Linked DNA regions of Homo sapiens: region 2 is linked to region 1. A link means that fine-mapping ties the variant in region 1 to the expression of a gene that starts in the linked region. Tissue or cell type: cerebellar hemisphere. Region 1 holds a variant in brackets; the other region holds the start of a gene. All regions are shown on one strand. Distances are between the middles of the regions.

Region 1 (8,099 bases):
GCTCCCCCAAGTTGCTTTTTGGGGGTCCTCACCTCAGTAAATGCCCCCTCCCCTGGCTTCCCATTCACCTAGTCAGGAACCTGGGAGTCATCCAGGCCTCTCCCCGCCTCTGTCCCCACCCAATTTAATCATTCACCCTAGTGTAGCAACCAGAGCCCCTGGCTGCAGGCTCTGATATTTTTTAGCTATCTCTTCCCCTCAAGGCTACACCAAATGCCAAGTTTTCAACCCCATCAGACGTCCACCCCACACTATTCTCAGCAAGCCAGTATTAGCCCTTCCTTCCCTTGGTGCTGAGGATGTTTGACTTAGCAGTTAATCTGGCTCCCAAATGCTTCTGGGAAGGATCTTCCTGGATCTCCAGGCTGCGGCACCTTACGCGACTAACTCTGCATAGGCCCTGGCCTCCTGACCACAGCCCAGTGGGCCCAGGATAAATTAGATGCCTTCGAATACCAGTGGGTCTCAGATAAGGAGGAAAAAACCAGCTCGCAGCTTCAGACTGGTTCGTTTCTTACCTTCCCCTCCCCTGGTGCTTTATTTTTAGGCAGGTTAGTGCGCCCTGCTCACACCACCTGCATTTGGCATTCGGTACAGTGTGGAGGTGTCACCAGAGAGGGTGCCTGCCCTCCCTTCCTTGCCTCGTTATTGGTTCTCTCTCTCTCCCTCTCTCTCTCTCTCTCTCTCCTCTCTCTCTCCTCTCTCCCTCTCCCTCTCTCCCTCTCCCTCTCTCCTCTCTCTCCTCTCTCTCCTCTCTCTCCTCTCTCTCCTCTCTCCTCTCTCTCTGCTGGCTGGCTGGCTGTCTAGGCCTATGTGTCACCACCTGGCACTTGCTCTCATTGTCTTGTGCGAGTGCTTTTGCCAGCAGTTTGGAGTGCAGACCCATCACCCCTCACTGGGGCCCCCCATGAGGCCTGCCTGACTGCATGCCCCACCCGGGCCCATGGCAGCGCACCTGGAAGCGGACGGCTGAGGACTTGTTGCAGTGCATGGAGATGGGCGCGAAGCTGTACAGGGCCTTCAGTACGTCGCGGTTGAAGGAGTTCCAGGGAACAGAGGTGAACTGCTGAGACACGGACGCCTGAGGGCAGGTGCAGACATCCTCGTTGTTGAACCTGGTGGGGACAAGGAACAGCCAGGCTGGGGAGCAGCTGACGGGCAGGGAGCCCAGTGGGCACCAGCAACACCTCCCTGCAACTCGAGTCCTGTCCCTGGGGCAACCGTCCTGCCACCTCCTCCCCAGCCCCGCTGCCTCCGCCAGGCCACCCCAGATGCTGCCTTCACCGGCAACGGCCTCACCTCTCCTGTCACCTTGGCGGGTGGGTAATGGCTGCTGCAGGCTGGGTTGAGGAGGCTCTGAAGCCAAATCCAGACTCAGCAGGAAACGAGTGAGGGGAGGGGTGAGTGATGCCGCCACAGGTCTCTGCTCCTAGAACTTAGCCTGGACTCCTCCAATCTGCCCAGCCGCCTAACAGGCCCGAGGTTCTGTGTCGGGGTTCCCTGGGGGCAGGGAGCTTGTGCAGGGAGCCCTCACCTGTTGATGAGGTGGAAGTACTTCTGCAGGAAGCCGGCGTCCACAGCGCTCTTGCAGAGCTCCAGCTGCGTCTGGGGGTAGTAGTGCACGTAGTTGACACACATCTCCTCCAGGATCCCGAAGCCCCCCTGCAAGTTGGAGGAGACCCGTCAGCCCCGGGCCATGCCACGCAGACGCTGCCATCCAGCAGCTTTCGCCGCACCCACGTGTACACTGCGTCCACTCGTCTGTTCACTGCACCGTGCCAGGCATGCTCTGGGGAACCGAGTCCCTGCCCTCAAGGAATTGCCACCATTGGCAGGAGAGACAGGCAGTGAGTGAGTGAGTCAACCAGGAAATTCGTATCAGGTACTGATGATGCTGTGAGGAAAAATGAAACGGGACAAGCGGATGGGGTGTTATTGTGCCCATTTTATGGGTACAGAAACTGAGTCTCAGAGCAGGCAAGGGGATGCCCCGTGGTGGCCACAGCATCGGTGGCACAGCCTGAGTGCACCCAGCGTCCCGGCCATTGTCTGGAAGCTGTCCCCATGACCTCCAGCGAGAGCCTGGAGCCAAGGACTGCAAGGGAGGCCCTTTCCACTGCAGCCCCGCACCGTCCACCAGTCATTTCTCCAACGTGGCTCTGAGGGGAGCAGGGACTCTATAAGACAGGACCGTGACTAGAGGCCGCGACAACCTCCAGCCTCTCACGGCAACCCTACGGCCTGCCATCGCATGGGAGGGGCAGGGCAGGCACCCTCTGAGTCCCCACTGCCAGCTTTAAGCCCCTCGCTGGGTTGCTGCTCTTGGAGCTGGTGACCGTGGAGCCTCAGCCATAGGAGGAAGAACAGCAGCAGCTTGGAGGAGCTGGGGCTGGAGAGAGCAAAGCTCCCCCGGCAGCAGCTCAGATCCCAGCAGGTCAGGGGCCGGGACATGACGCCCTGGCCACCCTTGCCCCTCCAGGCTCCCCGCTGTTTGTGAAGCTGCTGTGGGCCTGGGGATTTCATCTGGCTGGTGGGGAAGAAAGGCAATCTTTACTCTATGGCAGAACAAAGGGACTGGGCAAAGCTTGGCGTGGCACTTACACCAGCTGCCGCCCCCTCCTCCCGTGCAGACAAAGAGCATGGGACAGTTCTGCCCAGAGACGAAACCTGGCACCTGTTGGCCAGGACGCGTTTTTGCCAGCATTGTTCTCTGGGCCGGATTCCTCCTTTCCCAGCTTTTCTCATCCATCCCGCCCCCGTCAGATCGGGACGATTGCCCTCCTGTGTGAGTTCCTGTCCCTCCCCACCCTCTGCCACCACAGACATCAAAAGGGAACTGAGTCCGACCCTGTGTAGAATCTGTTCTCCTCTTTCACCTGGGGAAGGAAATCGAATTTCAAAGGCCACTGTGTCTTGGATCAGCAGGCGAGGGCTTGTCAGAGTGTGAGAAGCTCAGGTCCACCTGGGGAGCTGCCCTCCCCTTTGATCCCACCTGGTGCTGTGATGTGGCCACTGCCAAGAGGACGACATGGGCCAGGGAAGCCACAGAACTGCCCACGGGGAC[G/A]CTGGCACCGAGGGCCTCAACCTGCAGAACGGCCATCTGAGATGTCCGCGGTGCTCACCAGGCCTGGCAGCCCCGAACGCCCTGGGACGTGGCGTCAGTTCCGCCGCCGTGAAGCCAGATTGGGCAGGGAATATGCAGTCTCCTCGCTGGATGCCCGGCAAGACCCTCCCATCCCTGGCCCCGGGGCCGCGCCTGCAGAATGGGGCTGATGGTGGGGACTTGCCTGGGGTGCTCCACCTGCAGAGCCCTCTGTTTGCGAGCCCACTCAGTCACTGCACAGGTGCTTAGCCGAGAGGCGGCACAGTCGGGGTTGGCACCTGCACCCATACCAGCCCTGCCTCCTGTTCGCTGTGTGGCCTGAGTGGCTGGACCTCACTGTATCTCCTGGTGGGATTGCTCAGAGGTCTCAGCAAGGCTTGGTGTGGTTAGGATGAGTTATTAGAGCAGTGCTGAGCTGTGGCAAGCACCCGACATCAGCCACTGCTGTGATATACTGAGCACCTCCTCTAGAGAGAATAAAGGACTGACAAAGCTGTCCTGTCTCCACCCTGAGTTTGTGATCAGGAACCTAGGACACTTGTCACCTGAAATCCAAGGGAGACAGGAAGGGTGGGGTAACAGCTGTGAGGCACAAGACCCTGGGTCAAATCCCAGCTCAGCCATCTATCAGCTGTGTGACTTTGGTCAAGTGCCTGCCCTCTCTGAGCCTTTATGTCTCACCTGTGAAAATACAAACACTGGCTGGGTGCTATGGCTCATGCCTGTAATCCCAGCATGAGGGATTACATGAGGAGTTTGAGACCAGCCTGGCCAACATGGTGAAAATCCATCTCTACTAAAAATACAAAAATTAGCCAGGCGTGGTGGTGGGTGCCTGTAGTCCCAGCTATTCAGGAGGCTGAGGCAGGAGAATCGGTTGAACTCGGGAGGTGGAGGTTGCAGCAAGCTGAGAACACACAGCCTGGGTGACAGAGCGAGACTCCGTCTCAAAAAAAAATAAAATATAAAATAAAATAAAATAAACCACTGGCAGTCTGGGCTCAGTAAACATCAGGTGAATCCACATTGGATTAAAACACAAAGAATAGGGCTGTGACATGGACCTGAGTTCCTGGCGCTGAGGGATGTCAGGGTAGCTGTAACCCAGGTCTGCTCCACTTGAGCCACACAATTCACAGGATAATTATTGGAGACCACCATGGTTACCGAAGCAGCTGGCACGGATCCACTGGCAAGGTGGCCCATTTGCCAGGACAGCCCTGGCTTGTGCCTGGGACCCAGGTAATTGTGAACAGCATCCCCTTTGGCTCCCGGAAGCAGCCCCGCTGCGTGATGCATCACGTGGCTGCCCGTGTCCTGGTGCTGCCTGCATACCCAGCCTTGAAAATAGATCTCTCCAGTGCAGATTCTCCTTGAACTGTCTGCAGTCCAGCCAAAATGCATCCTCAGCTGACGCTCATCCTGCCTGACCCCCACCCATGTCTCCACCCTCTCCTCCTCTCCTTTCCATCCTGAGAATGTTCTTGGTCCTCTGGGCCTTCCCGCACGCAGCCCCTGCACAGAGCCTTCCTTCACCTCCTCCCCTCTCCCCTGGGCTCCATGTGACAGCCACATTTCTGACAAGGCCCTCCCAGGTCCCCGCACCTCTGCCTCCTCAACCTGGTTTTTAAAGTTTTGTTTTGTAATTTTGCTTGTTGTTAGCAGCAGGTGCTCCAGGCCTGTCTCCCTGGTGCACCTTGAGCTCCACGGGGCAAAGGTCAACCTCTTGTCCTACAGCTTCTCCCCACACCAGCCCCGGGTGCTGAGAAGCTTCTTGGTGTGAGTGCTTCTCAACCTTGAGCAGGGGTCAACATCCGCTGGGAGCTTGTTAAAACATGGATTGCCCGATGCCACCGCCTGTGTCTCTGACTCAGTGGGCCTGGGGTGGCACCCAGGAGGTTGCATTCATCCCAAGCTCCCTGGTGATGCTGCCACTGTGGTTCAGGGAGCTGAGAACGACTGGCTTATTGAGGGGACGAGCCCATGCCCTAAGTGAGGAGTCAAGACCTGTCATCCTTCCTCAGATGGCTCAGGCTGAACACTCGCCCTGGGCAGGTGCAGGGGGAAGCGGGGGTGACTTACCACTGTGGCCAGCTCCCGGTCTTCTGTGTTGTACGTGCAGGAGGTGATGAGCACATCTCCCTGAGGAAAAGCCAATGTGACCATCAGCACCTGCCACCTGGCGTTGGCAGGTGCTGGAGGCCTCGCCCCCATAGGACCACGCCACTGTGCATGCCACGGCACCTCTGGGGTACAGTCCCTGTCGTCCACTACAAGGAGCCCAGCAGATTCATGTGCGAAGGTCACAGGCTGAGTGTTCCCGAGCAAGTTATAAACCATCAGCTCCTGTGACCCAGTGGGTCACAACAGGGCCAGGGCCCAGGCCAGTGGGGGTGCAGCTGGTGGGCCATGACACATCTCAAAGGACTTGGGCAAGTCCCCACCGAGGCCTGGGCTTGGCCCTCTGTGGGATCAGGGCTCCACTGCCTGCCTTAGTGCCCTCATCTCCCCCAAACACTCTCGGGTTTGTGGTCGGCCCATCAGACTGAGGACACGCGTCCCCTGGGAGTGTCCTGTCTGCTCCACTCTTTCCAACGTCTCTCCATGAACTCCTGAGTGAGTCTCCCCATGAGGTAGCCCAGCCCAGAGCCACCCACAGGCACCCTCCCCCTGCCCTGGATGGCTCTCCCTCCCCCTATCACTTTCTGTGTCCCTCTCCTTCTGGTGGCACCCCCAGCCCTCTCAGCCACCCCAGCTGGTGGCAGTGAGTGGGACAGCCTTCCCGCTGGGCACTCACCGGATGGACCGACACGACCTTCTTCAACATGCGGATCTCCTGGGGCAGGCAGAGCCGAGGGGTGGGGGAGAGGAGACCTCAGAGAGCTGCAGACCAGACCCCCGGCCACTGTGTCCTCCCTCAGGCCTCCCTGACCTCTGGGGGTGTCCATTTTGCCCCAGCCTCTACAGTGGAAGCCAGAGCCCGCTAAGTGTGGCTTCTGGCCAGGGAGGGCATTAGATTCAAACCAGAAGGTGGTTATCCAAGACCAAGATTGATGTTCCCAGAGGGCCGCCTGGGTCTCCCGAATCCCACCACCATCTGCCATGTGCCAGAGGCCTCCCTACGATCAGACACCAGACACCCAAGTGGGGAGCACAGGCCACATGGGTGGGGGGCGGGTGGGGCTGGCCCAGGAAAAAGAAGCCAGCCTGGAGCCATCCCTATGGTGTCAGGAAACAGTAGACCCAGGAGGTCGTGTGGTGGCAGGGTGTGGGGGCGGGGCAGGGGTGGGGTGCAGGTTCCTACCTGGAAGTGAGGGCTGTAGTGATTGTCCTGGTTCACGATCTCCCACTCCCGGCCGTCCCGGACCAGCACTGTGACCACCTTTCTCCCAGTCAGGTGTGTGTGGAGCTGAGAGGCGAAGATGTGGATCCCGGAGGGAGGCAGTGCCTGTGGGGTCGGGGGGCTGCAGTGTCAGGGCCTGACCCCCGAGGGGACCCTCCCGTCCATGGCCAGGACCCGGTAGGGAGCAGCCACCCTGGGCAGTTTGCTTCCCTGGAACACTTGCATTTTCTAGGTCTTTCTCCCCGGCCAGGTTAGAGCCACCATCAGAAACCTCACGGGGAAGAGCGAGGGGGCCGCAACAGCCCCCAGCTCCCAAAGAAGCAGCCCCTAGTCCCACTCAGGAGCGACTTTCTTTCCGAGTCCTTCATCCTCTCCTGAGCCCCTGAAGCCTGACAGGTTCATCTTCACTCAGTCAACAGGCCTTTAAGGCGAGCCTCCCGTGGACAGGGTGTGGCAAAGCCACCAAGCTGAGCAGCGCGTGGCCTCTGTGCTGAAGAGCTTGCTGTCCAGGGAAAAGCAAGTGGCAGAAGGTGGTACTTGGCAGGTCCCCTACGTGGTGGGCCGAGCAGGACCTTCAGCTGCCCTGCGTTGTGGCTTCCTTTCAGCTTCAAAGCAGCCAAGGCTGCATTCTCCCTGTGCTCAGCATCACCCCGTGCTACAGCTGGGAGCTGTAGCTACAACTGGAAGGTGGTCATCCAGGACCAAGATGGATGTGACCATGGGGTGCTGCAGCTGGACACTCTGAGGCTGCAGGCCGGCCTCACAGAAAAGATGGCAGCCCTCATCTCAAGAGGTCTTATGCCATCACTGGGGCATGAGAGAATCTTCCAGAGAACGAAAGTTTTCTCTAACCTAATGCTAACTTTTTTTAGATAGAAAATGCATTTCCATGGCTGGGCATGGTGGCTCATGCTTGTAATCCCAGCACTTTGGGAGGCTGAGGCACATGGATCATTTGAGGTAAGGAGTTTGAGAATAGTCTGGCCAACATGGTAAAACCCCGCCTCTACTAAAAATACAAAAATTGGCCGGGCATGGTGGCACGTGCCTGTAATCCCAGCTACTCAGGAGGCTGAGACAGGAGAATCACTTGAACCCGGGAGGCAGAGGTTGCAGTGAGCCAAGATTGTGCCATTGCACTGCAGCCTGGGCAACAGGAGCGAAACTCCATCAAAAAAAAAAAAAAAGAAAGGAAGGAAGAAAGAAAAGAGAAGGAAGGAAGGAAGGAAAGAAAGAAAGGAAAGAAAAGAAAGAAAAAGAAAAAGAAAGAAAAAGAAAAGAAAGGAAAGAAAAGAAGGAAAGAAGGAAAGAAAAGAACACGTCTTTCCTGAAATCGAGCATTTTCTTTGTGAGTCAGTTGTCCTTTTGCCCACCCGCTGCCAGGCTCTGCCCAGTTTGTTCATGCAGTCAGCAGGTCCCAGAGCTCAAGGTCCCGACAGCCCCATCCCTGAAGGTCCCAGATGGCCGAGCTTTTTAGGACTCACTTTTGCTCCTTCCCTCTCGCTCCCAAGCAGCGGCCGCCCTGACCTTGCCGTCGCCTATAGCTTTGTGTCCCTTGCAATGGCTTGAGAGGCCACTGTGTGCCAGGCCTGGGAGCCCAAAGGGTCCCAATGCCCCTTTGGCCCCCAGAGGCCGACCCTGGCCCAGAGATGC
Region 2 (8,099 bases), 44 kb after region 1:
TTGGGCAGGTCATTCACTTTCTCTGTCTCGGGTTCTTTACTGTAAATCCGGTAAAATGAATGAATCGTGCCTGTCTCCCAGGGCTGTCAGCACAGTTCAACAGTAATAAGCACAAGACACATGCTAGCTATCAGCCGGGTGGTCCCTGTCCTGCCTCTGCCTGCCTCAGGAGGCCCTGTCCCATCAACCTTTGAAACTCTCACCTCCCTCTGAGCTCATGATGACGAGGACTCTTTCCTCTGTCTCTGCGCCCACAGTATGTGAGGGAATGAATGAACGAATGTAGGCATGGCCTGCATTTATTTGCTCAAGCTGTGAAGAAGTGCTTTGGCTGAGAAAGTAAAACCCAGATTAGGAGTACTCTCTGTTAATGTTTCTCTGGAGTAAAAAATCCCTGCAATGGAGGAAGGCTCTGAAACAATAAATCCTCCATAACTCCTGTCTCACTTCTTCTCACTCTGCAGCAGGATTTGTCAAGATGATCCGTGATTCACAGAGGGAGCCGGGAGAGACCCCTTGACGGGTCCCCGAGCGCCTCTCAGCCCCATCTCCTCCTCATCCATCATCTGCGATGATTCTTAAAGAACGAACACATCAAGCTTGCTGTCACAATGTTTTAAAATGTTGCAGTAATTAAAAACCACCGGTAATTTCTTTTCACACAGATGAGGCTGTCTTTTCAAACCAGGGCAATGGAAACACCCCACACGCTGCACACCTGAGCCCGCGCACGCCTCCCACTCTGTCCGCTGGCACACTCTGCTGCCCGACCCTCTCACCTTCTCTTGCACACTTTGGTACCTCGTCATTCTCCTGGTCCCATCTAAAAGACGTCCAATCTAACAGACCCAGGATGCGAGGCACACTCTGCCTATTCGGCATCACAGAGTAATCACAGTGACTTGCAGTTACCCATCTCTCAATAGTTTCTTTTTAAAAAGTTCATCTCTTCTCTAAATGGGCTTGATCTTGACCTGCACAGATCATCTGGAGTTGAGTGGACACAGGTTCAGTGAAAACGGATCAAAGGGGCTGTTGCTGGGCTCAGTCAATCAACTGCAGAACGTCTTATGGCTGCAGGCTAAGAAGAGGAAACAATTCAACGACCAAACAAAGGTTAATCTAGTAACTGCGGCAAGGCCCAGGTAATTTCCATAAATATGTGGAAACAGCAACCACTTCAATAGTTTGGCCTGGCACCAATATGAGGAGGAGCTTGGAAAACCGGACGTGGACCCCCTTTCAGTGCCCTGAGATCCATCGAGCAGCTGAATGGAGGTCGGTGCTGGGGGCCAGGGGGCACCCACACAGACCAGTGAGCAGCTGCCCCTTCTGGAATCTCACAGACTTCTAACACCGAGGGGTCCCCGGGTGCCAGCTGTGCTGCAAGTGGACAGCCAGCCTCTGCTCAGACATGTCTGGAGATGGCGAGCTCCTCCCTTCCAGAGGGTTCCCAGAAAGGGAATAGGAGAAGCTCTTGGCCATCATTCTCATTACTCTCCACATCCTGGCAGAAACTTTATTCCTCGAGCACTTTGTTCTTTCTGCCTCTGTAGAATGAGACTCAGCCATCAACAGCAGCTGCTCACATCCTTTGTTCCCAAGAACGTCGTTCCCTCCATTCGAGTGTGCAGGGGACTGTGCATGGGGGTGCAGGTGTGATTGGAATGTCAGGGTTTCCCCGCCACCGCTGGTTTTGTTTTTTCCTCTATATCCAGCCAATGAGCACCTCTTGTGCACATATAGATCCTCAGAGAGAAAGAAAGCCTGATGCCTCTTCTTCATGAGGCTGTAAGTCTTTGAGCAATGAGGCTATCCAACTCGACTCCAAGAAACGGATGCGCACAGAGGTCCTGCTTGTATAGTGTCAGGCTGATCTTACGCAAGCCCCATTTGCCCTAAGTGGAAAATGAACCTTTGTAAACTGCCACCCATGAACCAATGTGTTGGGAGGTGTTCAACCAACTTGGCCATCTGTTGAATTTGAGTTATATCCACGAAGCTCTGTTGTGGAATGATGCTGGTGGTGGGGACAGAGTAGCTGCCGTTGGCTGAGGTTGCCACGCGACTAAACAGCTTATTGTAGTGGATGGAGAACCAGTCCGGCGGCAGAATGTCACTCCTCCCACCCCCGGGCCTGTTTTTGGCCAACCTAAAAGAACTGCGTGTAACTAGGATCCTTTTTTTTGCACGCACCAGGAGAACTTGCTATTTAGGGAATCCTGATGATGAATTGTTTTTATAAAGTCAGACCAGAGACTCTTCCTTGTCTTTCTCTCCCCTCACCCATTTTTATTTTCTGAAATTGGTTTTTGCTTAAAATCAGGGCATGCTTTTGCACATAAATAATGAGTTTGGTGGTGACCATCTGGCATTGCGATCCAAATGAAATCTATTCAGTGTAGTCACCTCTTTGCTGGCTGTGTGACCTTGGCCAAGTCACTTCACCCCTTTGTTACCATCTGTAAAGCGAGGGCAATGCAGGCATCTACTGTACATATTGTGGGTAATATTCAGACCTCTTTCAAATAAAATGGGCTCCATTTTAAATAAGGTTTCGTCATCACGGGCATCAGGAACACATCTCTCTCCACAGCATGGGAAAGAAACCAGCATGTCAAGAGGCCAAGAGCTACAGAGTCTGAGCTGGTTCCACAGAGGTTTCCAGCTGCTCAGATCTATAGCTGCAGGATTCTGCAGAGTTTGAGTAAAAAGTCAGCATGGGGAGAAGTGGAAGGGCATTGAGCTGGTTGGTAAAGACAGGGCTTGGCAGTGATGTTGCTTTTAAAATTCTTGGCACACACTTGCAACTCTCAAATAAAAAACAAGTTGCTCAGTTGTCATAATGGAGTTTTTGACTAAAAGTGATGATTTAAAGGATTCCTGTGTCAACTCCTAGGACATCGATTGGCTGGCTGGTTTGTCTCTTCCTCCTGGCTCTCTCTCTTTCTGCCTTTCTCTCTCTCTCCTTATAAGGAATTTCTATCCGTGTTTACCATCCTTCTTTCTAGGTGGGGCTGGTTGGGAAGGATGTAGAAGTTCTAGAAGAAGGGGATTAGGAGCAATGGCTTGGGAATCAGGCCGATCCGCCTCAGGTCTGCTGCTGTTGAGCCTAAAGTTTTCACCTGCAAAGTCAGGGTAATGACAGTATCCATATCTCATCGGATCGCTGAGAAGACTAAATGAGGCAATGCTCGCACTGTGTTTAGCCTTGTGTCTAGCACGCATTAAGCACATAATGAGTGATGTTTATCATGAGACAAGTGCCTGGTGGGAGCAGGTACTACTCGCAGTTAATTAATGAATCAAACACAGCCCCTGGTCCCTTGGGAAATGAAGCAGGTGATGTTTAATTATCCTGCTTGGAAGAGAACAAGATACTCACAGGGGGCAGGGACCAGCTTTTCCCATTAGTTAAGAGGAAGGAGGACTAGCCTGGTTTGCTATAAGAAAACTCTCTATGGTCAAAGTGACCTGATCAGCCTGGAGAAACTCAGCAGGGGCCCTTGCCAGGGGCCCCAGCAGGGGAGGCAGCAGGCTGGACATTTGGAGCATGTCTGTATGGTGTGAACACTCACTCTCTTGTCCATGGGCAAGTTGCTCACCCATCTGTGCTCAGCCCATCTGTAAAAGGGAAATGGACTCCAAGCACTTTACTCTTCTGTTTGTCCTCAGTATTCTCATGTCTAGAATGAAGCAAGGTTATGGTTACTACCAGGATGGAGTTTTTTTATAGAGAACTTAAAGGTTGATCATAATGAAAGCACACATTTAAGGCCAGGCGTGGCAGCTCACACCTGTAATCCCAACACTTTGGGAGGCCGAGGCGGGCAGATCACTTGAGGTCAGGAGTTCGAGACCAGCCTGGCCAACATGACAAAACTCCGTCTCTACTAAAAATACAAAAAGAACAACCTGGGTGTCGTGACGCATGCCTGTAGTCCCAGCTACTCGGGAGGCTGAGGCAGGAGAATCACTTGAACCCAGGAAGTGGAGGTTGCAGTGAGCTGAGATCACGCCACTGCACTCCAGCCCGGGTGACAGAGTGATATGGCTCAAAAAAAAAAAAAAAAAAAAAAAAAAAGCACACATTTATATGGTGCTTTCCCACCAGGCACAGCTCTGAGTGCTGTACATGTTCTAACACAAAAGCCTTCCTAACATTCTTAACACCAGATTTCTCTCCGTTCAGGGTCCCTGCGACCGCAGGCTCAGCTCGAGGACCTGCAGAAACAGGGAAATGCCTCCTGGGGCACTCCTCTCAGGAGTAGGAGCCTTGGGTCAGAAAGGTCTCCCTCGTATCCAGCCCAAATCTGCCTTGCTTTAACGTCTAGCCATTGGTCTTAGCTCTGTGCTTTGGGGTCAGGGAGAAGGGATCTGCTCCCCTTCCCCGTGGATGTGGGAGAGATCCAAAGGCAGCCGCCATGCCCCAAACAGCCACTCACCAGGAGCAGCGTAAGCCTTGCTCCTCCTCTCAGTTGCTCCGGGGTTGCTAACTCAGAGAAGGGAAATAAATAGTAACAAAGGCGAGCATTTATTAAGTACTTATGGTGTGCCGGGCCTCGAAACATCATCGGATTTCATTCTCAGACCAACCCTAAAGGTGCTGGTGTTAACTCCCCATTTTAAAGATAAGAACCAGCCGCTCAACCAGGATAAGGGACTTGCCCTACTGCGGATAAGCAGCAGCTTCGGCCTGACTCCAGATCCCAACGTTGTGGAAGCCGGAACGCCCCGAGAACAGGCGGAGAGCGGAGGGAGCACCGCAGGGCGCCGGCCAGGGTGGGGGCACCCCCAGGCCTCCAGGAGGTCGCGCGTCCCGGGCGAGAGCGGACGAGCCGTCAGCACCAGGGACAGCTCCCCAGGCCGCTCCCGGCATCCCCCGACGACTGCGCGCGCGGGCCGGTGACGCGCGCTCCCCGCCAGGCTCGGGCGCGCGCCCTCCCCGCCAGCGCGCGCCCTGCGCTCGGGACCAGGCTGGAGCCGCGCGTGCAGCTCGCAGGGAGCCAGCCGGGGCGTCCGGAGTCGCGGCCGCAGCGCGGAGCTGGCAGGGGTGCCCGCCTGGGCACGCAGTCGCCTCCCCGGGGGCCTCCCGGGCTTCTCAGCGCCCGCCTCGCCCGCCCAGCCACACCAGGCGCCACCGCCGTGGCCTGGGCATGAGCGGCCGCCGCTAGCTGCGCCCTGCCCGGGTCGGACGCCCGCCCGCCCCGTCACGTGCGCCCAAGTCCTCGCGGCCGGGGCAGCGCGGTTCCCATGCTTCAAGGTAAGGGCCGAGCGGGCCGCGGGTCACGGGGTGTGGGGCAGAAGACGCAGGCTGGAAAGCTCCAGCTAGGTGCCCACTCGTCCAGAGTGCCCACTGCAGCCTGCCCCGGCTGCCTCGCACCAGGTCCCCTGACCCAGCTGGCGTCACCCATCCCCTGGCTTCCACCCTCAAAGCGCATCCCCGAGGAGGAGACTGAGACCCAGGTGGGCACGAGGGCCTAAGGGAGAGGTGGGGGACCCACTTTAGGAAGGGGGGCTTCATTTCCCTCGGAACAGTGGCCTGGGGGCAGGGGGCAGTGGGGAGGGAAAGTTTCCCAGAAGAGCCCTCTGGAAACCTGGCCGCCTTCTCTCCCTGCCAGGAGCTAAGACTTTTTCATTTGCTGAGCTTTGCCTTCTTCCAGAGTCGGTGCTGCATTTTCATCCCATCCCATTCACCCAACACCCACGAGAAAGGGGCATTGGCCCCATTTCACAGATGCAGAAACTGAGTCTCCGAGAGGTTTGGTCTCTTGCCCACGATCACAGAGTGGGGAAGTGGTGGAGATGGCCTCAAACACGCCGGCCTCTGTCACCACCACCTCACACCTTTGTCTGTTAGGAATCTCTGCTTCATTGACAGGTGGGGGGTTGCCTAACTGACACTAGGTTTCCTCAGCCAGAAAAGAAAAGACTCTACACACCAAAAACCCAAGAGATATTCAACATGGGTCCTCAGGGCTCCACTGTCTCACCCCACTCGTGTCCTGTCCTCCCGCAGCCACGGACTGCCTGGGCACAAGTGGTCCTGCCAGTGTGTGTCCCGTAGCAACCCCGATGGCTCTGAGACAAGAAACTCAAGGGTCAAGTTCATGGAACCTTCTGCAGGGTAAGGGGAGTATCCTTGAGGCCTGAGCCCCAGCATTCGTCCTAGCACCTTCCCCAGTAAGCAGGAGCTCAGGAGAGCCAGCGGGCCACCCTGCCAGCCTTCTCCCTTGCATTTCCCTCAGCCCCTGCCAACTCACGCTCTTCAGGGCTTCTGGGGAGAGCAGTAATTACCAACCCCCAAAAAGTTCAGGGTTGCTGGGAAAGCACCTTTGCCCATCTTCCCACCTTCTCCCTCTTATAGAATTGAGAGTGAAGTGGAGGTGACCAGGGCTCTACCCACCTGAGCAGGTGAGAACCAGCACTTCCTGGGCTGGGCAAGGGCTGGTTTTAACTCTTGGTGCACTGACTGCAAGCTTCCTAAACAGCTTAGGTGCTGGCAGCTTGTGAAAAAATCTCACCCTAAGGCTCGGGGGCCCAGGAAATGTGGGGTTTTGTTCATTCGGTCTTGCACTTGCTGGCAGTTTGTTGAGCATCTGCACGATGCTATGAAAAGACCCACAGGGCAGTCTTTGTATCCTGGATCCAGCTGGGTTTTGGTTTCCCTATCAGCTGAGTTTCCAATGGGGCCGGCTTGTCTAGACTCAGCCGGAAAGCTTGGAAATGGCTCCCGAAGGATCTGGGGGTCTGGGAAGGATGCACAGGCTCTCCCAGCCTCAGTGCCCCACTTGCATGGGGAGGGAGTGGGAGCTCCAGGGTGCATTGCTGGACTCTCAGGACGTGCTGACACCACTCAGAATCCTGGCACACAGAGGTGTTGCAGCTTCTCCACCCTCGCCTCTCCAGCAGGTAGGGCAAGGAGCCCCACAGAGCTCCTCCTACCCTTGAGGCTGGAGTCCCCAACACACGTCTGTCATGCCAGTACCATCAGCAAACATGAGCAAGGGCACCTGGGGAAAGGTGGGCACAGATGGAGAAGTCGGGACTCGAGTTCTGTCCACCTTTTTGGGTGACCTTGGGCAAGTCACTTTCCTCTCTAGACCTCAGTCTCCCATGTACAAAATTGTGGGGTGGATCATTTCATGTCCCCCCTCTGAGCCATTACAGCTCTGTTCATCTAAGCCCCGGATGGAGTAGGAAAGCTGGGAGGAGTGCAGTTCCTCCCTTTTTGCCATGGTATTGAGGGAGTGCAGAGCAGTTTTGAAATCTTCGGACTGACCTGAGTCCAAGCCCCCAGTCCGTGCCAACCCTACTCCCTACTCACATGATCACCCCCGTTTTGTATATTTAGGGGCTGGCTCTATATTCCTGACTTTTCTGGTGCTGGTTCTGGGTGAGGCTTCACAGCATGGAGACCCACTCCTGCAGTGAGACCTCTGGCTCCTGCCACGTGGGCCTGCCTCTGCAGCCTCATGGCAGCGGGCTCCAGCGAGGAATAATTACAGCACTCGGGAGGGGAGAGATGTATTACATCTCAGTCAATTACCTCTGACTCTAAACTCTCGGGGCAGGAGGGGAGGCAGAGCAGCAGCCGAGCCCTTGTTCTGTCCTCCACTCCGCTCCTGGCCCTACCGCCACTTCCCTCTTCAGAGTAGCAAGTCCTGATCTGTGTGTTGGTAAAATGGCAATTTGTGTGGCAGAGAGAGTGGTTTCCAGGCCAGACCACGGGTGCATCATTCCGCATCCCCATCTGCAAAAATGAGGGTGCTCCTGCCTTCCCTGCTGGCACATGGGACACCGGGGCAACCGTGAGCCTGGCCAAAAGGCTTTTGGATGCCAAGAGCATGTGGTCCTGGGGACCACCCTACAGAGGCCAGGGTGGGGCTGGGGGGCTTCTCTGCCAGCTGCTGCCACACTTGGCACTGGTACTTCTTGCAGTGTCTCAGTCTTTCTGGATCTGCTCCAGAGGGGATTTGATGAGTTCCGAGGCCTCAGTGTTTGCCAGCTCCCTCCCTCCGTTGCTGAATCCTCCCGCAGGCCTTGGCCCAATCCCCGCTTGCTGGGGGTTGCTGGAGAGGGGAAGGAATCCTGTTGCC

What was found. PIP is the estimated chance that this variant, and not a neighbour inherited with it, causes the effect.
Region 2: it holds the start of FAM163B, and the variant in region 1 is fine-mapped to the expression of FAM163B in cerebellar hemisphere (GTEx, PIP above 0.99). The same link has a PIP of 0.9 or more in cerebellum.

What each region holds. Positions count from the first base shown.
Region 1 is chr9:133,650,086-133,658,184 of GRCh38, reverse strand. It overlaps DBH (dopamine beta-hydroxylase), which reads right to left. Exons shown (of 12, transcript NM_000787.4): 7 at 6,408-6,551; 8 at 5,901-5,939; 9 at 5,186-5,245; 10 at 1,535-1,662; 11 at 956-1,115. It overlaps DBH-AS1 (DBH antisense RNA 1), which reads left to right and starts at 777. Exons shown (of 2, transcript NR_102735.1): 1 at 777-1,058; 2 at 1,648-3,598. RefSeq lists an enhancer at 2,903-3,702. The variant G/A (reference allele first, on the strand shown) is at 3,065.
Region 2 is chr9:133,606,241-133,614,339 of GRCh38, reverse strand. It overlaps FAM163B (family with sequence similarity 163 member B), which reads left to right and starts at 4,951. Exons shown (of 3, transcript NM_001080515.3): 1 at 4,951-5,263.